Regions from separate parts of the Homo sapiens genome. Here region 1 is linked to region 2. A link means that fine-mapping ties the variant in region 2 to the expression of a gene that starts in the linked region. Tissue or cell type: subcutaneous fat. Region 2 holds a variant in brackets; the other region holds the start of a gene. All regions are shown on one strand. Distances are from middle to middle.

Region 1 (4,226 bases), 150 kb before region 2:
GTGTGGGACACCCAGGGCCCTCCTTTGCTGGTGGGTCTTGTTAGTGGCTGACAGTGTTGGTGCAAAGTCACCCCCATCTGTAATAGGACCCAGTGCCCTCCCCTCTCTGTGCCATGTGGGTTGGGTAGGGGGTGAAGGGTCATCCACTCACATATTCCTTCACGTTTTTTGTCTTCACGGCCTTGTAGGAAGAATAGGCTGGGTACAGGGTGCCAAAGATGAGCCTAGGGAGGCAGGCATGGTTACTGGGCCTCTCAGCCAAGGGCAGTGGCCTCTCCCTCCCAGCTCCGCATCAGCCCCTGGGTAAGTAATGGGAAGAGAGACAGAACTCCCCGCTGGACTGATGAACTCAGGTCAGGGGTTAAGGTCAAAGCAGCATGGAACATGCCCAGCCAGGTAGGGTGATGCCCCCTCCCCGCTCCACTGTTCAGTTTTTCTCTAGCCCCGGAGGCAGGGAAAGGCCCAGAGGCCAGAGGGTCCAATGTAGTCCCTTGCGCCATGATCCTTGGTTACACACAAATATGTCATGGAGACTGGGAGTCAGGTCACTGCCACAGGGTGTCTTCCTTCTTGACCTCATGCCCATTCACACCCATCTGCCCTTACCCTCCACCTCCCTCAGAGCCAGGCTCTGCGAGGGAACCTGACACCACCTAACAGGGCACCCTACCTGGCAGGCAGAGGTACCACTGTGGCCCTGGGGCCCTAGGGAACAGAGGGCACAGGGGCAGGAGGCCCTGAGAGAGGCAAAGAGGCTTATTCCCCCATGTAAACACCACAGGGACAGGGCTCAGGGGAGGGCCCCGCTGGTGATCCAAGTACAGAATGCAGACAAGACACAGGCCGGGAAAGAAGAGGACCGATGCCCTTTGGGGCTTGCCCAGGCAAGAGAGAAGCAGCCACCCTGAAGGCCACATGGAGGCGTGAGGCCCCTCCATTCCCCCTGGGATGGGTGGGGGAAGAGAAGGAGTCTAGAGTAAACCAGGACAGAAGCACTTGGCCGGCCCGGCTGTACCGAATGGGAAGAAGGGAGCAGGGTGGGGCTGCCGGTGTCAGTCCCCAACGGTGGAGGCCGAGGGGCAGTGTCCTCATTAGGGCAGGGGATAGCTCCGAGAACCACGAGGAGCCCCTGTCAGGCTCAGCCCCTTGACAATGTGTGGCTGTCGCCTGTTTCCACATGGACAGGAGGGATACTTCCAAACCGGCTGGTGCAAGTGGAGTGCGGAGCAGAATCCTCAAGGACAAAGTCTGGGCTCGTGGGGAATGGTGTGTGTTCCCTCCTGGGGCCCGGGGAGGTGCCAGAGACACAGCTCCACAGTGTGGCTGGCAGCCTGGAATGAAGGCCACGGAGCGTCCTCCCCCAGCGGGGTCCACAATCCCAGGCTGAGCACACACATCCCCTCTCCCAGTTACCTCTCACACTTTGTCCTCCGAGCATTTCTGCTTCCCGATACCCAGACTTCCTCCCTAGGGGGCCTAAGGGCATATGCCCTCGTCCCCAGTCTCCTGACAGTGAGTGGAAGGGAGAGACCAAGGGGCCTGGTGATGGCTCTGAGCTGCGGAATGATGATGAGGCCCTGCCTTGCTCCACTCTCTTCCATCACCCTGTTACCTCCCCCAGAGGGACAGGGCCCGGGTCTGAGGATCTCCTCCAGCCCAGACCTGCTAGGTGGGGGAGGGGACGCGCCTGCCTCCCCTTTTAAATCAAGCCGTGCTGCTCAGCCTCTAGGATGGGCGCAGGAGCAAGGACGGTAGAAATAAAAGAGGTTATTAATAAAGAATGTGGGTGAGGTCCCTGGGAAGCCAGGCCTGCCACGCTCCCCTAATATTCCCCCCTCCAGTCCTGGGTGCCACATCTCCATGTCTCTGGGGGCCCCAAATAAGGACGCAGCGCCTTTAGGTGACTCTGCTGCACGAAGCTTCGGAGAAGTCCACCCGGGCTTTAACACCCCCGCCCTCCATCACAGCCCGCATCACCCCCCGCCGCCGCCGCACTCACACCACCAGGCGAGAGATGATCCAGGACACCATGGCGGGGCCGGGCGCGGCGCGGGGCGGGGACCCGGCCCGGCCGAGGATGCAGCTGCCTGAGGCCGAGCGGCGGCGGCGGCGGCAGCAGGAGCCGCAGTAGCAGCAGCAGCCGCTGCAGCAGCCGCCGCGGGGGCAGCGGAGCGCCCAGCGCCGCCGTTAAAGGGGAGGTCCCTGCCGCAGCGGCGGGCCGTGGGCGGTGGCGGCTCTTAAAGGGGAGGCCGGGAGGCCGCCGCGGCGGCGGCGGCGCGCCCCCGCCCCGGCACCTGCTGTGGCCGGGCATGCGCCTCCGACCCTCAGTGCCCTGCCTTCCTCGAATCGCTTGTTCATCTTTCTTGGGTTTCAAGCCCTAGGCTGTTGTCGTGGAGGTCTCCATGGTTACATCCTGAAATCGACCCCTGCCCACCTCCTGCCCTGCCCACACCAGGCGCTTACTGTGTGCCAGCCCCTGTGCTAAGAGCTTCACTGCGTTGCCAGTGAATCCTCTTGACCACCCTATAAGGCAGGCGCTATAAAAGCCCTCATTTTGAAGATAAGGGAATGAGAAGCTTAAGGCTCAATAATCTGTTGAGAGTCACAAAGCCACCAAGTCATGCTGCTAAGATGACCCCAGGAAGCCTACTTTAAACAGGTTACATCCCCCAACTGCTGACTAGCAAACTCTCCTCATTACAGGCCCTGAAGACATCCACCTGAGCTCCTGAGTCACAGGTACAGCCGCACCTGTCCACCCCACTCCTTCTCACCCCGTTGAAAGAGGATCTCCCCTGACCAGATGATGTTTTGTTTTTTTGAGACAGGTCCTCACTCTGTCGCTCAGGCTGGAGTGCAGTGGCACAATCTCAGCACACCTCCTGGGCTTGAATGATCCTCCCGCCTCAGCCTCCCGAGTAGCTGGGACTACAGGCCCAAAACACCACCAGCTAATTCCTGTTTTTTTGTTTTTTGTTTTTTTTTGCCAAGATGGGGTTTTGCAATATTGCCCAGGCTGATCTCCAACTCCTGAGCTCAAGCGATCCACCCGCCTCAGCCTCCCAAAGTGCTGGGATCACTGGTGTGAGCCACCGGGCTGCTGGTCTGCTTTTTTAGGTTGTCAGCTCCTAAGCTTTGCAGCGGAACAGAGCTTTATGCTCTCAATGTGGTTACTGACAACAAAGGGTCAACCTTCTTTTCAAACAGAGGGGCTGCGAGAGGGTCCTGGGGCTCCAGTTCCACCCCCATCAGCAAGCACTAGTGGCAGTGAATGTCCTGATTCTAAAGACATTTATATCCAGAATGTAGGCTAGCCTGCCTCCTGATCTTCAGGAAAGCAACCAACCTCCAACCATCCACCAACACCCCCAGCCCTATTGCTCTCCTTTCCTGTCCCATTTTAGAGCTTCTGCATTCCTCTACCCTTTATGTTGAGTTGTAATCCTTCGGGTGACCACAGCATCAACCTGTGCCCATCTGGGCTGAAAGGACACATTCAGAACTGTGTATTTCAAAGAGTCATGGTCTTATTCAAGCTCAGTATCCCTGAACAACACAATGGTCTATTTCTAACCTGGTAAATTATATTTCCAGGTTCAAACACTTTGGAAGATGTTTCCCAAAACGTTCCAGAAAAGCAGCCTCTGATAACCCCTCTTGCTATTCTTTACAACTTCCTCTCCAGAAAACATCTCCTAATTGGAATGCAGTCTGTTATCACCCCACAATGAAACACTTTAATTACTGCTTGATAAATCCCACATGAGTGTCTCCCACCATCTCTAAGGTGGATCTATGGCCACACGTTTCATGTAGGCAGCCAGGCTGCCTGCTTAAGAATCCCACCACAGACTGTCCAACTTTGCTGAGGCCACACACCATGACCCTTCCCCCCAGACTCTGCCACAGGAAGGGAGGACCCCAACTTTCCCACTCCATTCACAAAGCATAAAGTATGGGGAAACATGTCTCTCTTTCTACCCTCTAATTCATGTGGCCCCTTCCCCTTACCCCCAATTCCCCAAACCATACTGACCTCACCCTGGCACTTTCCTTTTTTCTAACATGGCACAGTCTCAACAAGCAAAGAAAAATATCTGGGTGTAGCACAGTCATGAAGACCTGGAAATGAATCCCCCACCTCCAACCCAACTCCCAATCTGATGTTGATTTTAGAAGGGTTGGTACACGAATAATTTAGTCCACTCCAAACAGATTTGTTAGAT
Region 2 (4,238 bases):
TAGGGGGTTTAATATTCCCAAACAGGTGAGCAGAAGTGGCCTATATCGCTCCCCGTCGATGCCAGAGAACTTGAACAGGCCAAGACTGAAGCAGGTGGAAAAATTCAAGGACAACACAATACCAGATAAAGTTAAAAAAAAGTATTTTTCTGGCCAAGGAAAGCTCAGGAAGGTAAGAACTTTTTAAGATGAAAATCTTGTTCATCTTCTATCTCATGTCTTTGCTTTTCTGGTATGAGGATTGTTTTATTATGCCTTTTTTGTCTTCTTCCTCTTTACTTTTACTTTTTCCTCTTTGTTCTTTCCATCTTTCTGTCTTTTCTACATCTGTATCCACGTGAAATATATATATATATATAAAATATTTATATAACATAGATACATAAAGTATATCTATATTGTACTTTTAGAAATGTTGTCATAGGCCGGGTGCAGTGGCTCACGCCTATAATCCTAGCACTTTGGGAGGCCGAGGCGGGCGGATTGCCTGAGCTCAGGAGTTCAAGACCAGACTGGGCAACACGGTGAAACCCCGTCTCTACTAAAATACAAGAAATCAGCTGGGCGTGGCAGCATGTGCCTGTAGTCCCGGCTACTCAGGAGGCTGAGGCAGGAGAATCGCTTGAACCCGGGAGGTGGAGGTTGCAGTGAGCCAAGATTGTGCCACTGCACTCCAGCCTGGGCAACAGAGCAAGACTCCGTCTCAAAAAAAAAAAAAAAAAGAGAAATGTTGTCATCATACCGTCTTCCCAACCCTTTTTCTTAAGATCTGAAAGAATACAAGGGAACTTTGGTATGGATATTTTACTGCTGTTTTACATGCAGTCTGACAGAAACAACATCATATAGCAGGTTGGTTTTGTGGAAAGCAACTTCTGAAAAACTTAGCCTTTGTCCTTTACCCTCCCCAACTTTAAAAAAATTAAATAGATGGGAGGATCACTTAAGGTCAGAAGTTCAAGACCAGCCTGGTCAATATAGCATGACCCCATCTCTAATAAAAAAAAATAAAATAAAAAATTAAAATTCTAAAATCTTTGGATATTTTATAAAATCAACTTATTTATTTATTTATTTATTTTCCCCTGAGATGGGGTCTCACTCTGTCACCCAGGCTGGATTGCAGTGGCATGGTCTTGACTCACTGCAGCCTCAATATTTATTTATTATTAAAAATAATAAATAAACAAATGGAGTCTCACTCTGTCTCCCAGACTGGAGTGCAGTGGTGCAATCGTAGCTCACTATAGCCTTGGCCTCCTGGGCTCAAGTGATCTCCCTACCTCAGCCTCCCATGTAGCTAGGATTACAGATGTGCGCCACCATGGCCCACTCCATCCACTGGTTTTTAAACCTTTAACATGAGGATTGGGTGTGGGGTGGGAATCTTGTCATCTTCAGGGCTTATGTTTAAAGAAGACAGTCTCTCTGTGTGACATTACTATCACTCAGATGCTGGAGGAAGATTCTAACCAGGGGCACCTGATTGGTGATTTTTCCAAGGTGAGTTTGGCTACACCCATCCTGTATTTCAGTGAGTCATTTTGGATCTGAATCTTCTCTGTTTGCCGAGAATGCCTGGTGTAAATATGCATCCTCACCAAGTACTCTTTGGTAACCTGACAGTGCTCTAGTGGTAGATCCAGGCCCTAAGCCTTTCCAGAGAGAAAGTATTTCTTATTCTTCTGGGAAGATCCAGAACAGGGGAAAGTATGAGACTTTTTACCTTTTTTCTGTTTAAAAACATATTTTAAAATTATGTAAATAATACTTGGTTGTTACAGAAAAAGTAGAAAATGAAGAAATTTATCCCAAACTTTATTAACCAGGGTAATATTGCTTAGTATATACTCTTTTTTTCCCCCCTACTGTCTGTGTAATTGCAGAAGGTACATATTCTTACAGATTTTTTTCTGTGTTTTCACAAACACATATACAAATACAGTTTTTGCTTTTCTACAAAAACAGTTTATATTGTTTTGTTATCTGTTGTTTTTCCTCTCATTTAATAATTATATCAGGGGCATCTTTTTTCATATTAATAAGCAGTTATGCTTCATTCTTTCTTTTTTTAAGATTCAAGGTCTTGATCTGTTGCCCAGGCTGGAGTACATTGGCATGATCATAGCTCACTTCAGCCTCGAGCTCCTGGCCTCAAGAAATCCTCTCTCTCCTTGGCTTCCCAAAGCACTGAGGTTACAGGCATGAGCCACCATGCCCAGCCCATTTCATTTTAATAGCTCCATATTATTTCTTTTTTTTTTTTTTTTGGCTGCTCATAATTTCTTCATAAATCCCTTCTTGTAAGATATTTGGTTTTACAATTTTTTCTTATGAATGATACCAAGATGAATATATTTGTAGAGAAATCTAAAACTTCGTACACATCCTTGATTTGTTCTTTAGGATCAGTTCTTAGAAATGGACTTGATGTATATGCACTTTATAGAGACACTGATTTTTTTGAAGGCCTCTGGGGTTTTAAGGGTCACTTGGAAAGAAGGACAAAATAAGGGTCTTTGATCTCAAACTTGGGTGTGGAATACTTGCTGTTATTTCAGCTCTTGTGTATTTCTAGGTATGTGCGCTGCCAACCGTGTCA[G/C]GGAAACACCAAGATCTGAAGTATGTCAACCCAGAAACAGTAAGCAGATTTCTGGAGATGGTAACTGGTTACATAAGCTACCATCTGGTCTCTTCTGTCCCTAAAATGCCCATTTCCATTTGTATTTCTTTCACTGTGTTCACTCACACAGGCTCCTTATTCAACTGAAGTTATATTGAAGGACTCATTTTTTTCCCCATTCTTCTCTCTCCTTCGTTTTTAGTTAAACAAATGATACATAGTTTTTGTAAAAGGGAAAAAGGGAGGGGTCAGGCATGGTGGCTCACGCCTGAAATCCTAGCATTTTGGGAGGCTGAGGCAGGCAGATCTCAGGCACTTGAGGCAGGGAATTCGAGACCACCCTGGCCAACATGGCGAAACCCCATCTCTAATAAAAATACAAAAAAATTAACCAGGCGTGGTAATGTGTGCCTATAATCCCAGCTACTTGGGAGGCTGAAGCACAAGAATTGCTTGAACCCCAGTTGGGGAGGTTGCAGTGAGCAGAGATCGTGCCACTGTACTCCAGCCTGGGCGACACAGCGAGACTGTCTCAAAAAATAATAATTACTTAAGAAAAAAGGGAGAAAGAAAGGAAAATAAAAAATCACACACAAGAAATGGTCTCAATTAAGGTCTCAATTAGGGTGACCATGCACCCTCGTTTACATTTTACAATCCCATTTTCATCTATTAGTGAGGGTAATTATTAATAGTGTTTGCTTTCATTCTCAAAAGTCTCCCAGTTTGTACAAAAATTATTTGGTCACCATACCCACAATCTCATCACCAGAGATAACCACTAGTCATATTTTCCTATGGCCTTCCAGATTTTATTTTATTTTTAGACATGGAGTTTCGCTCTTGTTGCCCAGGCTGGAGTGCAATGGCACAATCTCGGCTTGCTGCAACCTCTGCCTCCCGGAGGTCATTCTCCTGCCTCAGCCTCCCAAGTAGCTGGGATTACAGGTGCCAGCCATCACACCGACTAATTTTTGTATTTTTAGTAGAGACGGGGTTTTACTATGTTGGTCAGGCTGGTTTCAAACTCCTGTCCTCTGGTGATCCACCCTCCTCAGCCTCCCAAAGTGCTGGGATTACAGGTGTGAGCCACTGCGCCCAGCCCCAGATTTTATTCTAGCATATGTTTTATAGAAATGGGATCATGGGCCTAGCACAGCTCACACCTGTAATCCCAGCACTTTGAGAGGCCAAGGCAGGCGAATCACCTGAGGTTGGGAGTTCGAGACGAGTCTGACCAACATGGAGAAACCCCGTCTCTACTAAAAATATAAAATTAGCTGGGTGTGGTAGCGCATGCCTGTAATCCCAGCTACTCGGGAGGCTGAGGCAGGAGAATTGCTTGAACCCGGGAGGCAGAGGTTGCGGTGAGCCAAGATGGCACCATTGTACTCCAGCCTGGGCAACAAGGGCGAAATTCCATCTCAAAAAACAAAAAAAAAGGATCATGATGAACGTATAGTATTGCAATTTGCTTAGTGAGACATTATAGACATCTTTCTATATCAATAAGGTATCTATATTATCATTTTAATGGCTATATAATGCCGCTCTATTCTACTGACATGTACAATTTATTTTACCAAACCCCTATTATTGAATATTGAAGTTATTT

Direction of the effects. Positions count from the first base shown, and alleles are read on the strand shown. Sizes are in standard deviations (SD) of each study's normalised expression.
In carriers of allele G in region 2, the expression in subcutaneous fat of the gene that starts at base 2,183 in region 1 tends to be lower than with C alone (large effect, 1.6 SD a copy in FUSION).

What was found. PIP is the estimated chance that this variant, and not a neighbour inherited with it, causes the effect.
Region 1: it holds the start of REEP2, and the variant in region 2 is the best candidate, but not a certain one, in a credible set for the expression of REEP2 in subcutaneous fat (FUSION, PIP 0.52).

What each region holds. Positions count from the first base shown.
Region 1 is chr5:138,437,014-138,441,239 of GRCh38, reverse strand. It overlaps REEP2 (receptor accessory protein 2), which reads right to left and starts at 2,183. Exons shown (of 8, transcript NM_001271803.2): 1 at 2,000-2,183; 2 at 152-224. The coding sequence starts at 2,031. It overlaps KDM3B (lysine demethylase 3B), which reads right to left. Exons shown (of 24, transcript NM_016604.4): 24 at 4,213-4,226. RefSeq lists an enhancer at 1,017-1,550 and a silencer at 1,936-2,355.
Region 2 is chr5:138,287,904-138,292,141 of GRCh38, reverse strand. It overlaps CDC25C (cell division cycle 25C), which reads left to right. Exons shown (of 14, transcript NM_001790.5): 8 at 26-172; 9 at 1,402-1,503; 10 at 2,579-2,641. Among named protein-coding and RNA genes, the nearest start is that of GFRA3, 15 kb to the right of the region's middle. The variant G/C (reference allele first, on the strand shown) is at 2,603.